2 separate regions of the Homo sapiens genome follow, and region 2 is linked to region 1. The links come from fine-mapping of genetic effects on gene expression. Tissue or cell type: whole blood. Region 1 holds a variant in brackets; the other region holds the start of a gene. All regions are shown on one strand. Distances are between the middles of the regions.

What was found. PIP is the estimated chance that this variant, and not a neighbour inherited with it, causes the effect.
Region 2: HSBP1 starts here. The variant in region 1 is fine-mapped to the expression of HSBP1 in whole blood (INTERVAL, PIP above 0.99).

The regions. Positions count from the first base shown.
Region 1 is chr16:83,729,089-83,737,272 of GRCh38, reverse strand. The region is part of intron 10 of CDH13 (cadherin 13); the gene reads right to left. The region is part of intron 1 of CEDORA (CDH13 antisense oligodendrocyte and neuron associated lncRNA); the gene reads left to right. Among named protein-coding and RNA genes, the nearest start is that of CEDORA, 40 kb to the left of the region's middle. The variant C/T (reference allele first, on the strand shown) is at 4,106.
Region 2 is chr16:83,804,412-83,812,595 of GRCh38, reverse strand. It overlaps HSBP1 (heat shock factor binding protein 1), which reads right to left and starts at 4,618. Exons shown (of 4, transcript NM_001537.4): 1 at 4,475-4,618; 2 at 3,850-3,916; 3 at 3,171-3,291; 4 at 1-1,175. The coding sequence starts at 4,519. The coding sequence ends at 3,173. RefSeq lists silencers at 4,182-4,471, 4,489-4,665 and an enhancer at 4,323-4,824.

The DNA.
Region 1 (8,184 bases):
ATATCAAGGAACTTGAGTCTAACAGCGCTCACTAATAACTTAAGTCTGAGAATGATTTAGTCTAGGAAATAGGCGCTCTTTGCCATGTAGTCACTTTCAATAGTGGGCAGGAAAGGGGTGGGGCCACAGCTAGGTGCCACTGATTGTGGGCATGGTCAGCATGAATTACCAGCGTGCCTGCAGACAAACGCCTAAGAACCACTGTTTTGAGCTCCCACCCTTTTCTGCGGACTCTCTAACCTCTTCCTTTGTGTGTGAGCCCCACGTGCACCGAGCCTTCCCTGGCAAACAATGGAACTGACATTTCCTGGGCACCAGCTACTTGCCAGGGACTGCACACATCTTCTCTGAAAACCTCCTCACCACCTGTTCCAGGCAAGCAAGTCTGCTCCTAGTTTCTTCTGGCAAAGGTCATACCGGGCGTCTTGTTCGAGGCCATTAATTCTTTGTTAGAATTTACCAAAGGTCTCCCAACTGCTGCAATAGGACCTTTTTGTGCCTGCAATAAGATTTTGCTGTGGCCGGGCTCTTCCTAGTCAGGGCTTGCTAGTCCATTTTGCAGATTTATTTCCAGGGGTGATTGACATAGTTTCCGCTAGGCGCTCACTGCCACTGCCCTCCCCCACCCCATTTTTGAAACCTACGTGAATACAGCAGCTATTAGAGTAAGGAAACAACGTCTTCACAACTTTATAAGTGTCTTTGCAAAGACATTTATATCTCATATAAAGGGACATTTGACACTTCGTAAGGGTCATTTCGTTGTTGCTTTTGACCAAATTGACTGCCAAGCAATACAGAGAAATACAGACAAAGAGATTCAGGGTATAAAGCCACAAATTTAACAATATCATACACATTGAGTAAATTAGGAAATAAAAAATTAAACAGTAATTAAACATTGAGAGACTAGGACCTTAACATATTTAGTTACCATATTAACAGGCTGAGACTTCAGAAGCTATCCGATTTCTGAAATCCAGAAATACACTTATCAATCCTAGGTGAAAACAGGGATTGAACACTCTTAGTATGGGTAAAAGCATTACACAGATGCTTTAAGGTGCAACCACAAGATAGCTTTCATGATTAATTTTCATTATCATTATTAATGACTGATCAAGTCTGATCCTATAGGTAATCTAGGTCTAAGGTTAAATTTGCTACATCCATGTATCCAGATTGGGTGGCTTTTTCTAAGCAGCAGAAATGGCGCTTGGAAAAGAACAGGACGACTTGGAGTTTGGTACCAGTTGGTAGCAACGTAAGCTTTACTTGGTGTGAGGCTCTTCATCCATTTGTTCACACTCTTTTCATTCAGTGTGTTTTATCCCTTTTTTCCCTGCATTCCTAGGCCTGAATATATACAAATATGAACAAGACCCACAAGGACTGCTCATCACCCCAGTATTCCATTTACAACATCCTGAATGAACTCCCGACCAGGCCTATAATTCTCTCTTGCAGCCAAATATCCTGCTTACTCCTGGTATCTACCTGGTCAGCAGACCTCATGAGTTATCGCCCAGTGACAAAACCATCCCAAAGATGCACCAGTCCAGCACAAAGTATGACTGTCAATCTCACAAAAGATGTAGGGTTCTACGAGGATACTCAGAGTATAAGAATTACGCTAAGTGAAATAAGCCAAGCCCAGAAAGACACATACTTTATTATTTCATGTATCTGTGGAATCTAAAAGAGTCAAATTCATGGCAGCAGGGAGAGGGCTGAAGAAGGGGGAGATGTTGATCAAAGTTTCTATGTATACAAAGACCAAACCATCACATTATGCCTCATAAATATATACAATTATTATTTGCTAATTACAAGTAAAGCAATACAAGAAGAAAAAAAGGAATCATAAGTAAATCCATGACAAGTGAAAACGCAATGGAGAGAAGGGAATCAATGATTGAAGAAGAGAAAGGACAGTGGATTTACAACTGCTTCGAAAGAGTGATTTGACTGGCAAAGGACTGGGGAGAGGTCCTTTGGGAAATGGACAAAGCCCTCGAATGGTTAGGAAAGACAATCTCTTTATAAATGCAGGGCATAAGCTGAGCACAAGGTGAAGTTTGGCATGTACTGCCGTGGGATGTTGTAAAAATTATGTCAAAAGCAAAGCAATTCTTGGTTCATCTGTGTTCACTGTGAGACTAGCCTATTATTGGGGTTAAACTTATAAACAAACTTCTATTCATCATTTTTTTCTCCAAAATAAAGTGATCAAATTGTCCCACAGAACTGACGCTTATGTTTTTTTTTTTTTGAATAACCACAGAAATTGTTCCTTCCAGACTTTAAAACTTGAGAAAGTTACAATTGTCTTATCTGAGTTCCTTTCTCAAGAAGCCAACCATCAGGTCTCCCAGATAAAATCAAGGAGCTGAAACTTACCAGACCACTGCCTCTGGATAATGAGGAGCCAGACCCCTCATCCATCAGGATTGCCTAAAGGACCACCTGCTTCCTACTGACCAACTTCTCTTCCTTGCCCCGCTTTAATCCCTGTTTTTATTATTATTATTATTATTATTATTATACTTTAAGTTTTAAGGTACATGTGCACAATGTGCAGGTTAGTTACATATGTATACATGTGCCATGCTGGTGTGCTGCACCCATTAACTCGTCATTTAGCATTAGGTATATCTCCTAATGCTATCCCTCCCCCCTTCCCCCACCCCACAACAGTCCCCAGAGTGTGATGTTCCCCTTCCTGTGTCCATGTGTTCTCATTGTTCAATTCCCATCTATGAGTGAGAACATGCGGTGTTTGGTTTTTTGTCCTTGCGATAGTTTACTGAGAATGATGATTTCCAATTTCATCCATGTTTTCCCAAACACGGTTACATTTCCTCTCTGGTGCATCAACCCCTCATTTCAGAGATGGATTTGAGACTGACCTCCCATTTCCTTGGCTGCAGCAGCACCCGATTAAAGCCTTCTTCCCTGGCTTTTGTCTTGTCTCAGTGATTGGCTTTCTGTGCAGTGAACAGCAGGACCCAGACCAAACCCCTGGTGCTTCGGTAACAATTACATCTTAACCAAATACATATATTTTTTCAGTTTTGAGTCACACTTTGGTCTTCACTTTAAATTGATTCATGGTAAGTTGCTTTTTTGTGCTTCCAGTCTTCTTTTGGTAAGGGCTGTTGGTGGTCCCTGTTTTTTGGTTCATGATTTGGAGTACATGGATGGTCACAGGAGGGGAGGTAAGGCTTTGGGGTTTAATCTGGTGACTAAACACTAATAACACTTTATTACAAGAGCAAAAAGCAGAATAAAATAGTCTGGTGCTCTGCTTCAGAGTTTCTGATAAGGCCCTCAGCAGCATGGAACCTGGGGCAGGGGGCTCTCTGCCTAAGTCTCAGGCTGCGCTGCTTGCAGGTCACGTTCCACTTTTGTCCACTTACGCCAAGGCATGGTGGTGTCTGGACAGGTGATCAGTTTCCCAGGGTGGTTTATCTCAAAGAAACACGCTCACTGGGAGAGCAAACTGGGATGTCAGAAGACCAGAATGGGAAAGTTAATCACCCCTCTGTATTTGTTCTCAGAGTTTATTTTTATTGGGTGATTAACCGACACACCATGGCCTTTGCTCTGGCACCTGGGTCTCTGAGTCCAGCTCAGACCAAGCTGAGCATGGATATTGCCACTTTCAAGAAGTCAATAAATGAAGCCAGCTGCAGCGGGGACCACAGTGAGATAGATGGCTGAGCCTCGCATTATGACTTGAAGCTCAGTGAATGTGGTCTGGCCGGCTGCCAAGCAAGGAGGTACTTAGAGGCAGCTGTGCTTAGCTTAGGTGATGACGGGACCTCCCTCTCCAGTGGCATCCTAATAGACAACCGTCTATAGAGACTGCATTCGTGATGGAGGCCAGGTTACCGGGAGGGCTGCAGGGTCCCTGGGAGACAGAAGCATCTGGGTTTCACAAGGAGAGAGCTCACCCAGGAGCACGAGTCCAGTGTGCGCTCACGGATCATCATCCGGAGGCACCATCACCAAAACAGGTGATGCTGCTGGCTGTTCTGTGAAGGAGCTGGAGGGTTATTTCCATCACTGAGTGCTCAGAATCACACATTCCCAGCCCTGTGTA[C/T]TGATTTCCAGTGTTCATTCCATACATACGCTTTGACCACCTTCTATCTTCCCAGTATTCTGTTAGGGACTGGGGAGTTTGCAGTGATCAAGGTGGGGAGCTTCCTGCCCTTGGGATGCGTATCTTCACCAAGGCATTTACTATCTGATGTTGTAATTTTCACACAAGGTAGCGAGCTCCCAGGGATACACTTTGTCTTTCCCTCTTCATGTAGGCAGTGAGTGGCCTCATGTCTGGCCATACAGGCCTTGGTTAAAGATGGGTGAGTGAATGGGCAGAAAAGTCAATGTGTCAGAAGCAAGTGGAAGAGCAGCCTGGAATTCCAAGGAGTTGATATCCCCAGGGATTTCAAGGCTCTGTGATGACAAGTGCAGCTGAATCCCTGCAGGAAGCAGTTGGGTTTGGTGCCCCTGGTGAGGTCAGGGGTGTCAAGTACTGAGATTAGCAAGGGGGATGAGATGTATCCTGGGCCTGCAAGCCTCCCTCTGTATGAGGATGCCAGCTGTTTCTACGTGTGGGAACATCAGTTGCCAGGAAGAATGTGGCTCAGCTCTGCTATCATCTTTCTGGATGTAGGAGGTTCTACATTAGCACTAGTGTAGAAACAGAACCCTACTACAGTTTCCGGGTCCTCTATTCTGTTGCTCACAGAACAGGAGAGTGAGATTTAAAAAATGTACGTCATGTCCCTTTCAGGCTTCAAAACCTTTGTGGCTTTGGGGACTGATCACTGCTCACCTCCCACCATCAACTCACCCTGTTCCCCAGTCCAAAGCTAGCCAGGCTCTCCCATCGTCCCAGCCTTTGCATTAGCTGTTGGTTTCTCCCCCTCACCTCTCCCCTTGGCTGGTTCATTATCACTCTTCAGATCACACATCATCTCCCTCCTAACCAGCCCATCTAAGGTGGCCTTCTCCAGTTACTCTCCATCCCATTAAGCTGTTGACTCTCCCATGGGAAAGAGCTGTAAGCTGTAATCACACCGGTTGTGTGATCAGACATTCATTGGCTTGTTCATTGCCGGTCTTCCCACTAGAATGGAAACTCCACACTGTCTTGTTCACTGCTATCCTCAGGGCTAGTTAGGACCCGGCTCACAGTGTGAATTTTTCAATATTTTTTGAATAAATAAATAAACCAGGATGATTACCTTTAGGTTGGATGTATGAAGAATAGCTAGCCTGTCCAAAACATTTACTTTCAGCCTTGTTATTTAATCTGAAAAGCAATATTCACAACTGGCATTTATCGACTACCTGCTACCTGTCATGCAGCATTTAAATCTTCCACAAACCTTTGAGCTAGTTTATACACGAGAATTTTGCTCATTTTACATTTTCCTGTCTGAAGTCTAGAAAAAGAAAATGGATACTTTCTGAATAAATCAACCTCTTCTAAACTGACTTGCCAGAAGACGAGAAAAGAATCCAGCTGGAAAAAACCTAGGAAATAGCATTCTGCACATTGACCTTGGCAAAGAATTTATGACAAAGTCCCCAAAAGCAATTGCACCAAAAACAAAAATTGGCAAAGAAACTATCAACAGAATAAACAGACAACCTATAGAATGGAAAGAAATATTCACAAATTATGCTTCCAACAAAGGTCTAATATCCAGAATCTATAAGTAACTTTAACAACTCAACAAGCAAACAACTACCCCATTACAAAATGGTCAAAGACATGAACAGACACTTTGCAAAAGAACACATACGTGCGGTCAACAAACATATGAAGAAATGCTCCACGTCACTAATCCTCAGAGAAATGCAAATCAAAACCACAATGAGATACCATCTCACACCAGTCAGAATAGCTATTATTAAAAAGTCAAAAAATGACAGATGCTGCCCAGGTTACAGAGAAAAGGGAACTCTTATACACTGTTGGTGCGAATGTAAATCAGTTCAGCCCCTGTCCAAAGCAGTTTGGAGATTTCTCAAAGAACTTAGAACAGAACTACCATTTGACTCAGCAATCCTACTACTGGGTGTTTATCCAAAAGAAGATAAATTGTTTTGCCAAAAAGACACATGCACTTGTATGTTTATCACAGCACAATGCACAATGGCAAGCACAAGGAACCAATCCAGGTGCTCATCAATGGTGGAATGGATAAAGAAAATGCAGTGCGTGTATACCATGGAATACTATGCAGCTGTGAAAAAGGATGAAATTGTGTTCTTTGCAGCAACATGGATGCAGCTGGAGGCCATTAACCTAAGCGAATTAGCACAGGGACAGAAAACCAAATACTGCATGTTCTCAGTTCTAAGTGGGAGCTAAACATTGAGTACACACAGACACAAAGATGGGAGCAATAGACATTGGGGACTACTAGAAGGGGGAGCATGGAAGGGGTGTAAGGGTTGAAAACTATCGGGTACTATGCACACTGTCTGGGTGATGGGATCACTCATACCCCAAACTTCAGCAACACGCAATAGACCCAGGTAATAAACCTGCCCATGGACCCCCTGAATCTAAAAGCTCAAAAAAACCACAAACCAAAAAACGAAAACAAAACAAAAACAAACAAACAAAAAACCCAGGTGATCCTTTGTACCCAGTTCAATTGTATGAATTTTTTAAAAGAATACCACCGTATATTTTAGTGTGTTGAACTTTTCATCGAATTGTGATTTTAAAAAGTCACAGTTTAGCCCAGAAGGAGGTATCTCCAAGTTTGTCAGTTCCTAAAACAACATTCTAGAGGGAAACAAATGAAAATCTCTTGGAACTGTACATATTCTTTGACCCAGAAATTCTTCCTCTAATTATTTAGCTTAAAGAAATAGCTATAGGGAGCACATTCCAAAACTGGGGAATGCCAGGTTAATAACATCAAATGAGGTCCCCCTTTGCGCAAGAATTCTCAGAGCCTTTAATACTCAGATTTGCATTGTGAAGATCTGAGAGAGGGCCTTAGAATAATGCATAGCTCAGACTTATTTGGCTGAAATATTTAGCGACAATTATATTTTCTCCTTCAATGTTTACTATAGAAAAATAAAAAATCAATCAGGGAACTGTTGATCAAAAGTGATAATGGAATGCTACGTAGACATTAAAAGCCATGATGAACACAGCATGACAAGATGACAACACATACGAAGTAAATCTTTATAGTAGGTAGGTATGTGTATAGCACCGTGAGGGTCCACATGCAAACATGTGGCAGGCTCGCTGCCCCCTTCTCACAAGCACGGTAATGACTTGGCAATGGCCAGGTCAGCTTCAAAACCCCTCTTTGTATGAAGCCCTGTGTGCCAAACCCTTCTTTTTCACAGGGCTTGACATACAATCCCAAACAGATTTGCTGCTGCTGGCTGAGAAAATACCTTGGAAGGGAATGCTAGTGGCAGTTGCGGTAATAATTATGATCATGATGATGATAATAATAGAGTCACAGATAATATTTATTGAGCACTTGCTTTGTGCCAGGGAATTTCCAAGCACTTTACATGGGTCAGCTTATTTAAGTCTAACAATAACTTCATGTGGGTGGGATTACTGACCCATTATATAGATGAAGAAACAGAGGTGGTGAGGGACTAAGTAGCTGGGTCCAGGACACACAGCTAGTAAGTGATAGAGTTGTCCAACCATAGCGCCCATGCTCTTAACAGTGATGCCTCGCTGTCTGACCTGGGTCTTAGGAGTAGTGGTATCTGGCTAGTGGGATTTACATCTTTCTTAGTTTTGCCTATCTCAGTTGCTAAAATTTTTACCATGAGCCTATATTTGTTTTGCAAATAAAATTTTTTTGGCAATAAAAAGACTAGTAATACAAAGATGATTTCCTTTATATCTCTACATTTCCATTTTCTCTTCTTTGTGAAACCTTATTACTATAGATGGTATATTTACTATATATACATACACATATGTATAATATGCATGTCTTATCTATGATATGTAACAGTATATGATGTATATGCACATAAATAATATATCCATTTTATACTTGTGAACTGAACATTTGTTGCTGTTCCCCCCAAATTCGGATGTTGATAGAACTCTAACCCCCATTGTGGCAGTACTTGGAGGTGGGCCTCTCCTTAGGAAGTTAAGGTTAC
Region 2 (8,184 bases), 75 kb before region 1:
AACACCAAGACTGGTGAGATGAGAAACTTAAAAAAATCATGTTTTTCAAATTTTCAAGTTTTTGTGTAAAAGCACTTTGTGGTGACAATCATATGGATCACCTTCCAGGTCATCAGTATTGGCCTCTAGGTTTAGCACTCCTGGCACTGCATTTTTGAGTGGCCAGAGATAAAGGTATTATCCCTGTCTTCTATAATCAATGATAACATTGACACTCTGCAAGAATTTAGATAAGAAACAGTTTAAGTAAAATAGTGTTTTTTAAAAACTTGAGTCTACTACAAGTCGTTGATCATATTCTAGCCAAGCAACTGGCATGGACTTAATATGGTCTCTTTTCCTTCTCTCTTTCTTTTCAAGTCACTAGCTCAAAGGAAAGACTGATTGAGTTTTAAAATCCTGCCAGATTTTTTATGGTAACCATTGTAGATGAACCACGTAGGTAGGGTCCTACTGAAGTATTAGAATCTCATGCAAAACTCTAACAAACGCCTCATTACAGAAGGCTATTCTGTTATTTTCTGTACTGTAAAAGTTCTGACACAAGACAGTGGCAGTGGTTACTTTTCATCGACTTTAGCATGTGATCTCAGGGACTCAGACATACGTCTAAGTTCTATTCTGAGTTTTGGCAACAGAGCAGTGACAGATATTTCTGAATGAACAATTTTTAGGTGTTTTCAGCCATTTGAAAAGTATTGCCAACACACTATTTGGTGTTAGCTCAACAGTCACGTTGTGCCAAGAATTAAAGAACTCTAAAGTCTACAAACATCTTACTTCACCAAGACTAACTATAATTGAAGGGTTTACTATTTGTTTAATAAAAAATCACACATCAACTTTTATCCAAACAGCAACTACTACAAAAGGAATGACAAGAAAAAAAATGACTTCACAGAAATACACTAAAAAATCTGACAATGTTATGCAAGAACCGCCAAAGTTTTAGTGTTTAATAATGAATAGCACAACTGACCAAGGTCCAAGATGTGAAGATACCATGTTCAAGAAACTGGGGGGAAATCACTCTACAAACTAACTATATACTAGGTGATAAGAATGCATACTTTATAATATAAAACCTGTCTACACATAGTAGTTAGCTGCAAAAAGCCATTCGATCTTCTCTTGGCTTGGAAAAATGCCAGATTCCAGTATAAATTATTAGCAACCTGTTGAAGAAGGAAAAATCATCAACATGTTTTTCATTATATGAGCACAAGTAAAAATGACATATAGACCTATCAACTACAAATCCCTTTCCACTCTCCTACTGAGTTAAACTTATTTTCTTCTGGCAATATTTTAGCAATAGATTTAACTGGAAATATCTTTAAAAGTTTCAGAGTCAGTTTCCTACTCCCACTCTTTTCTTTGAATGACCCCCATCACTAGCCAGTCTACCATCCTGAAATTCTTGTGGTAAGATAATCAGTCAGTTGATGGCAGTTTTGATTGCCACATAATATAAAAAGAGACCCACAGAAGCATCTGAGACTGGTAGGACATTTTTCCAAATTATCTCTGGATAAGAATAACGATGACATAACCCATAGAAAGCAGTTATGTGATTTACTCACACAGTGAATGAACCCCACCTACTGTGAAGATAAAAGCAAATTTTAGAGTCTGTCTTCAACATCCCAAATCTGTATTTCACAGTGACTTAAAATGTGGTCCACAGCAAGCCCAGAAAATAGGAAATTAGGCATGTTTTACTGTACATTCTGCTTAGTACTCTACGAATCTAAAAATACTCAGGAACCATTTTATTTTATTTTTTTGAGACAGAGTCTTGCTCTGTCTCCCAGGCTGGAGTGCAGTGGCATCATCACGACTCACTGCAAACTCTGCCTCCTGTCTCAGTCTGCCAAGTAGCTGGGATTACAGGCGTGCACCACCACACCCAGCTAATTTTTGTACAGACAGGGTTTCACCATGTTGGCCAGGTTGGTCTCGAGCTCCTCACATCAACTGATCTGCCCTCTGCCTGCCTTTGCCTCCCAAAGTGCTGGGATTACAGGCATGAGTCACCACGCACCAGTACCTTTTTTTTTTTTTTTTTTTTTTTGAGACAGAGTCTCACTCTGTCGCCCAGGCTGGAGTGCAGTGGCGTGACCTCGACTGCAACCTCCGCCTCCCTCAGCAACATTCATTTTTATAGAGAATTAAAATGTTATAAATGAAACAAGAGAAAAGTGAGTCTAAAACTTATTTTTCACACATACAGAGGAAAAGGATCACCATGCACTCTGCTGAGTGATTCTGTACATTTACCTATCTTGCTGTGTAGGTACTTTGAATTACTAGGCTTTCCTCTGACATCTGAAACTATTCAGAGGAAATTTAAATGAACTCCAGGGTAAAAGCTTAATGTGGCCACAATCTAGTTCACCTATGTCAAGTTACCAAGAAAGTCTCCAGAATTTAAGCCATTTAAGAAGGTGGTAATGTGGGTGACTTATCAGTTATTTCCATAAAAAAAAAAAAAAGCAATGGAAAATCTTCCAGTGACAGGCTTTATAGGCCAACAAAAAGACACCTTAATTATTAGCTGGAATGATAAAAACTCAGTGGTTATCTAATGTTAGCCAGTGGTCTTCACTAATAGTGACAGAAGTCTAATTAATAAAAACTGGGAAAATAAATTCGGTGTAAAGAATGAGTTTGGCATGAAAAATTTCAAAACATCAAGTCCACAGCAGGTAAACAATACAGTGATGCTTGCTGGGATCATGGCTGGGAACTGATCTACAGAATGTCTGACTACATACAAATTATACTTACAGGTTCTCTCTATTCTTTTAAGACAAAATAAAAAAAAAGACCGGGCACGGCGGCTCACACCTGTAATCCCAGCACTTTGAGAGGCTGAGGCGGGCAAATCACTCAAGGTCAGAATTCGAGACCAGCATGACCAACATGGAGAAACCCCGTCTCTACTAAAAATACAAAATTGGCTGGGTGTGGTGGCACAAGCCTGTAATCCCAGCTACTCGGGAGGCTGAGGCAGGACAATCGTTTGAACCCAGGAGGGCAAAGGTTGCAGGGAGCCGAGATCGTGCCATTGCACTCCAGCCTGGGCAACAAGAGCAAAACTCCGTGTCAAAAAAAAAAAAAAAAAAAAAAAGAAAAGAAAAGAAAAAAAAAATTGCCCCCTTCCTCACCTTCAACTCTTTTGCGTGGCAGGTATCTTGTTTTCACTTTCCAGTTCTTCCACCCCAGCCTGTGTCATGAGGTCCGCGATATTCTTTTCCAGATCATCAATGCGACTACTCATATCATCAAGTGCTGAAGTTAAAGACAACGCGTGCCAACATCTCATTGAGCCTTTTTCCTCCCGTCCCTGCAGACTACAGCCTTAAACACAACGACTTTAGGGAAACTGGTCTTCCAATTTTCTTTCGACACTGTTACACGCTGGTGGGTAAGAGTACAGGACTGTGGGGCATGGCTACCCCGCATCGGATTCCAGCCCTGACCCTTACTAGTGATGGAACCCCTAAACCTCAATTTATTCATTTGCTAAAGATGATAACACTACAACCCACTCATAAGGTCATGCTGAGCATCAAAAGACACACACAAAAGCGCTTAGTTCACAGTGCATGGTCCACCACACCAGCTATTAGGATTGGTAGACGTATGCTCCTTGAGCCAGGAGTCTAACTCAGCTTTGCCCCTAGCTCTCGGCGCAGTCCTTCTCAGAAACACAGTACAATCCAAGCTCAAATTCTACAAGTGAATGGCTGAAGCTAGCCTGAAAACTACTCATTTATCCCCACCACTGCCCGGCAAATAGGCTCCAAAGGCCCACAGGAGGCCGACTGCAGATAAAAAGGATATTTCTCCCAATGATCTGGTCAGACATGGTCTGAAATTTATCTTGCATCTGCTGCAGGAGTGTCTGCACCTAAGAAAAACCGAAACAAACAAACACGGTCCACATCGATCCTGAGACAACTTCCTGGGATCAGGACGCAAGCCCTGGTCCCGGGGTTCCAGCCCCATTTCTGCCTCTGGACAGCTGTGCGGCCTTCAGCAAGATCTTCCTTCTCTGGGCTTCCGTTTTCCAACCTGTCCAATTAGACTGCTGGGCTGGGGAGGCCGCTGCGACTCAAAGCTCAGGGTCTTTAGGTTGTTTCTGCCGGGCTGGGGCACCCGGGGGTGTGTGAGGAGTTGAAGGGCGGGGAGGGTGTCAGAGGTAGGCGGGAGGGACCCGGAGGGCGTTCGCGACAGATGAATGGGGCTACTGGAAGGGGTCGGGCTTGGGGGCGCCCGCGGGGAGACTGGCCCGCACCGAGCGCCCCGGGGGTCAAGGTGGCCGGGAGCCTCGGCCAGAGACGCTTCCAGAAACGGGGCCTCGGCAGACGCCACGCGCGGCCGCGGTGGGCGCGCCTCTGTCCAGCAGGGCTTGGCCCGGCGCCGCCCGGGAAGGCCGCGGCCTCCGGCCCTCACAGCCGTCCCTTACCACCGAGGTGAGGTCCTGCACGGTCTTGGGGTCAGTCTCGGCCATCTCCCCGATGCCCAGCTTGGCGGTGATGTCTCAGACCGTAACCTACACTTCCGTTTGTCCGCTCAGTCGCCCCGGGCCGCTGCTTCTCGCGACGAGACTGGCAGCTCGCGGGACCGCGGGGCATTATGGGAGTAGTAGTTTCTCCCGCACCGGAAGGGCCTCGAGGCCGCGCGCTTCCGTTCCAAGGAGCGGCCCCACCCCACTCTCCCCGCCTTCTTTCGCATAGCCCCTCCCCTCCCTCTATGCCCCGCCCCTCACGCAGCGCGCCGTCAGTGGGGTGGAAAGTGAGACCAACTCAGAAATGGAGCAATAGAGGCAGGGAGTGGTCTTGGCCTCTCTTCCAGGCTGTAGTCAGTCGAAAGACGGCTCTGGGGTTTCTTTGGCCTGTCGGGACGAACTTACAGAACTTTTGCCCTTCAACAAGCCCCACTGTACCCTTGTAACTGCCCCCAAGCCAAGGAACATGACCCACCCCTACCCGCCCCGGGAGCCCCATGGCTCCTGTCCTGTTCTGTCATCTCCACCCTATGAAGGTGGCCAGCGTCTGGAGTTTAGCCCAGTAGGTTCATTGTGCCCGTCAGGTTCATATGAGGGGATTCAGACAGGAAGCTGTCCATCATGCCTGGCTTCTTTCACTCCACGCAATGCCTGCTGTTGAGTGGGGAAGGCTTCCGGCATCAGGGTTAGACTGTGGGTTTGGGTGTTGAAGGAGGTGGGCACTGCTGATTTGGAACCTCAAGTTCCAACCCCACAGGTGGTCTTTAGGATTGGGTCTCATGGCAAGGGGATAGGAGAGTCCTTGACTGCGGGCCTGGCATGTTCTGGAAACTTTCACACATCTCATTTAAGGACTGTGCTATGTGAGGGGTCAGCTCCAGTTTGACTTTAGCTAGGGAGAGGCTGTAAGGTGTTAGAGCTGTTACGGGAAAGGGTCCTGATCCAGACCCCAAGAGAGGGGGTTCTTGGATCTCATGCAAGAAAGAATTCAGGGCGAGTCTGTAAAGTGAAAGCAAGTTTAAGAAAATGAAGGAATAAAAGAATGGTTACTCCATAGACAGAGCCCTGAGGGCTGCTGGTTGCTCATTTTTATAGTTATTTCTTGATTATATGCTAAACCAGGGGTGGGTGATTCATGCCTCCCCTTTTTAGACTATATAGCGTAACTTCTTGACGTTGCCATGGCATTTGTAAACTGTCATAGCGGTAATGGGAGTGTAGCAATGAAGACAAGCAGGGTTCACTCTTATTGCCATCTTGGTTTTGGTGGGTTTTGGCCGGCTTCTTTACCGCAAGCTGTTTTATCAGCAAGGTCTTTATGACCTGTACCTTGTGCTGACCTCCTATCCCATCCTGTGACTTAGAATCCTTTAACTGTCTGGGAATGCAGCCCAGTAGTTCTCAGCCTCAGTTTACCCAGCTCCTATTCGAGATGGAGTTGCTCTTGTTCAAACGCCTCTGCCAGACCCACCAGTGTCTCTAACAAACCCGGAATCCAGTTGGCCTTGAGGCATGAGACTTCAACTCCCTTTACCACCCCTTCCCCCTCACTCACACCTTTGCCCCTCACCCTTCACACCTCATCCTTTCCTATAGAGAGATCTTCCTTTCTGTGTAAGTATACACAACTTTTTTGTAATTGGCTGTTGTCAACTGGTATTTGGCTAGTGCTTTACCCGACTACTTGAAATAAAAATATCTCAGTGTTTTAAGTTAATCCTCAGAAGACCCTGTGATATAATTATCATAATTTTACATTTTTGAGAAAACAGATGCAGAGGCGTTAAGAAACTGGAACAAGGTCATCAAATTAAGGAAGTAAGAGACGCAGGACTTCCTGACTCTGCATCTTCTCCTTTTTTCTCACCATTCTAGAATTCTCTGAGTTTTTTGAGCTTAGAGCAGAGTTTCTCAAGAGCTGCAATACTGGCATTTGAGTCAAGTCGTTCTTTATTGTTGGTGGTGGAGGGGGCACCCTGTATATTGTAGGACGTTGGGCAGCATCTCTGACTTCTACCTACTAGATGCCAGTATCTCAGTTTTCTTAAAAGACTTTTTTTTTTTTTTTTTTTTTTTTGAGATGGAGTCTTGCTGTGTTGCCTAGGCTGGAGTGCAGTGGCACCATGTCGACTCACTGCAACCTCCGCCTCCCCGGTTCAAGCGATTCTCCTGCCTCAGCCTCCTGAGTAGCTGGGATTACAGGTGAGCACCACCATGCCCAGCTAATCGTAAAAGACTTTTCATAAAACTTCAGAACTCCTTAAAAACTAGTGAATAGCCAAGGTGAAGAAAGCCCTCAGGCTTCTGACTTTAGACCCCAATCCCTGGGACTCCCACACTCAGCAAAGAAAGCTGGGTGCCTGCACCCTGGATCTCTGAGCAAACCTGTCTTATGGCTGTGGGCAACTCAGGAACATGAATTAGCACGAGAATCTGGAGTTTTTCTTTCCTTTTCTGGTAAGACACTTGTGGTTTTTTTTTTTCAAATTCCAATTGGAAATTTGCTTTACATGAACAACAAACAAACTTGATACTCTTTTAGTGGAGGCATTATTTGTTCCTTTATTTTTTGCACTTAAACAGACAGGCAGTATGCTTTCTCTGTGTGGAGACCAAGGTCTGTTAAAGGGCTGCTTTTCACGGAAGCTTCACTAATTTATACTCATGGCTGACATACTCACCTTGTGGGGCTGACACACCGAACCTAACTGAATATTGTCCCATTAACAAAACTAATGTATTACGTGTAAGGCACCAGTAATTAACCTTTAAACTTCGGTTTTGAACAACTCTCATTTTTAACCTTTATTTAAGTGTCATAGTTGTCTTACCTCCTCTTGGCATTTTTTTTTTAAAGCTCTTCCTAGATTAATTGCATGTTGTAACTCCCTTTTTCCATTCAAGACAGTTTTGTTTTACGTGCGCTTATTATGGTACTTTTATAATTGCTTTTTGGTTCTCTGGGCCATTCTTTTGACATGCCTCCTTTCTTGGATCTGTACTATGATAGGTGGCTGGGCATGGTGGCTCATGCCTGTAATCCCAGCACTTTGGGAGGCTGAGGCAGGCAGATCACTTGAGACCAGGAGTTCAAGACCAGCCTCGCCAGTGTGGCGAAACCCCATCTCTACTAAAAATACAAAAATTAGCTGGGCTAGGTGGCGTGCACCTGTAATCCCAACTATTCAGGAGGCTGAGCCAGGAGAATCGCTTGACCTGGGGAGGCAGAGGTTGCAGTGAGCCGAGATCTATCCCCTGCACTCCATCCTGGGCAACAGATTGTGACTCTGTCTCAAAAAACAGTAATAATAAAATACACTATGGAAGGTGTTGGTCTGTCCATGTGACCACATGCAATGAGGTGCTTTGTGCGTTTGCCTTGTGTGAGCAGCGATGGAATGATCCTAGCGGGGCCTTGGAGGAACTGGAATGTTCTTTGCCTAGTTGCACCTGCGTCAGCTCTGTAGGCCCAGCCCTGGGGCCCAGCAGCTGCTCCCCTGGTTTGCTTTCCTCCCAGGTTGCCTCATGCTGCTGCTGAGCAACCTTCACCTGATGGGCGGTGCCACAGCAGGGTCAGTGAAGGGTGCCCCTTCCTTCTAGTGACCTGGGCTGCCCTAGCCCTGGCCCTTCAGTAGCCATTCCAAACCTTTCTGGTCCCCCCAAATCCA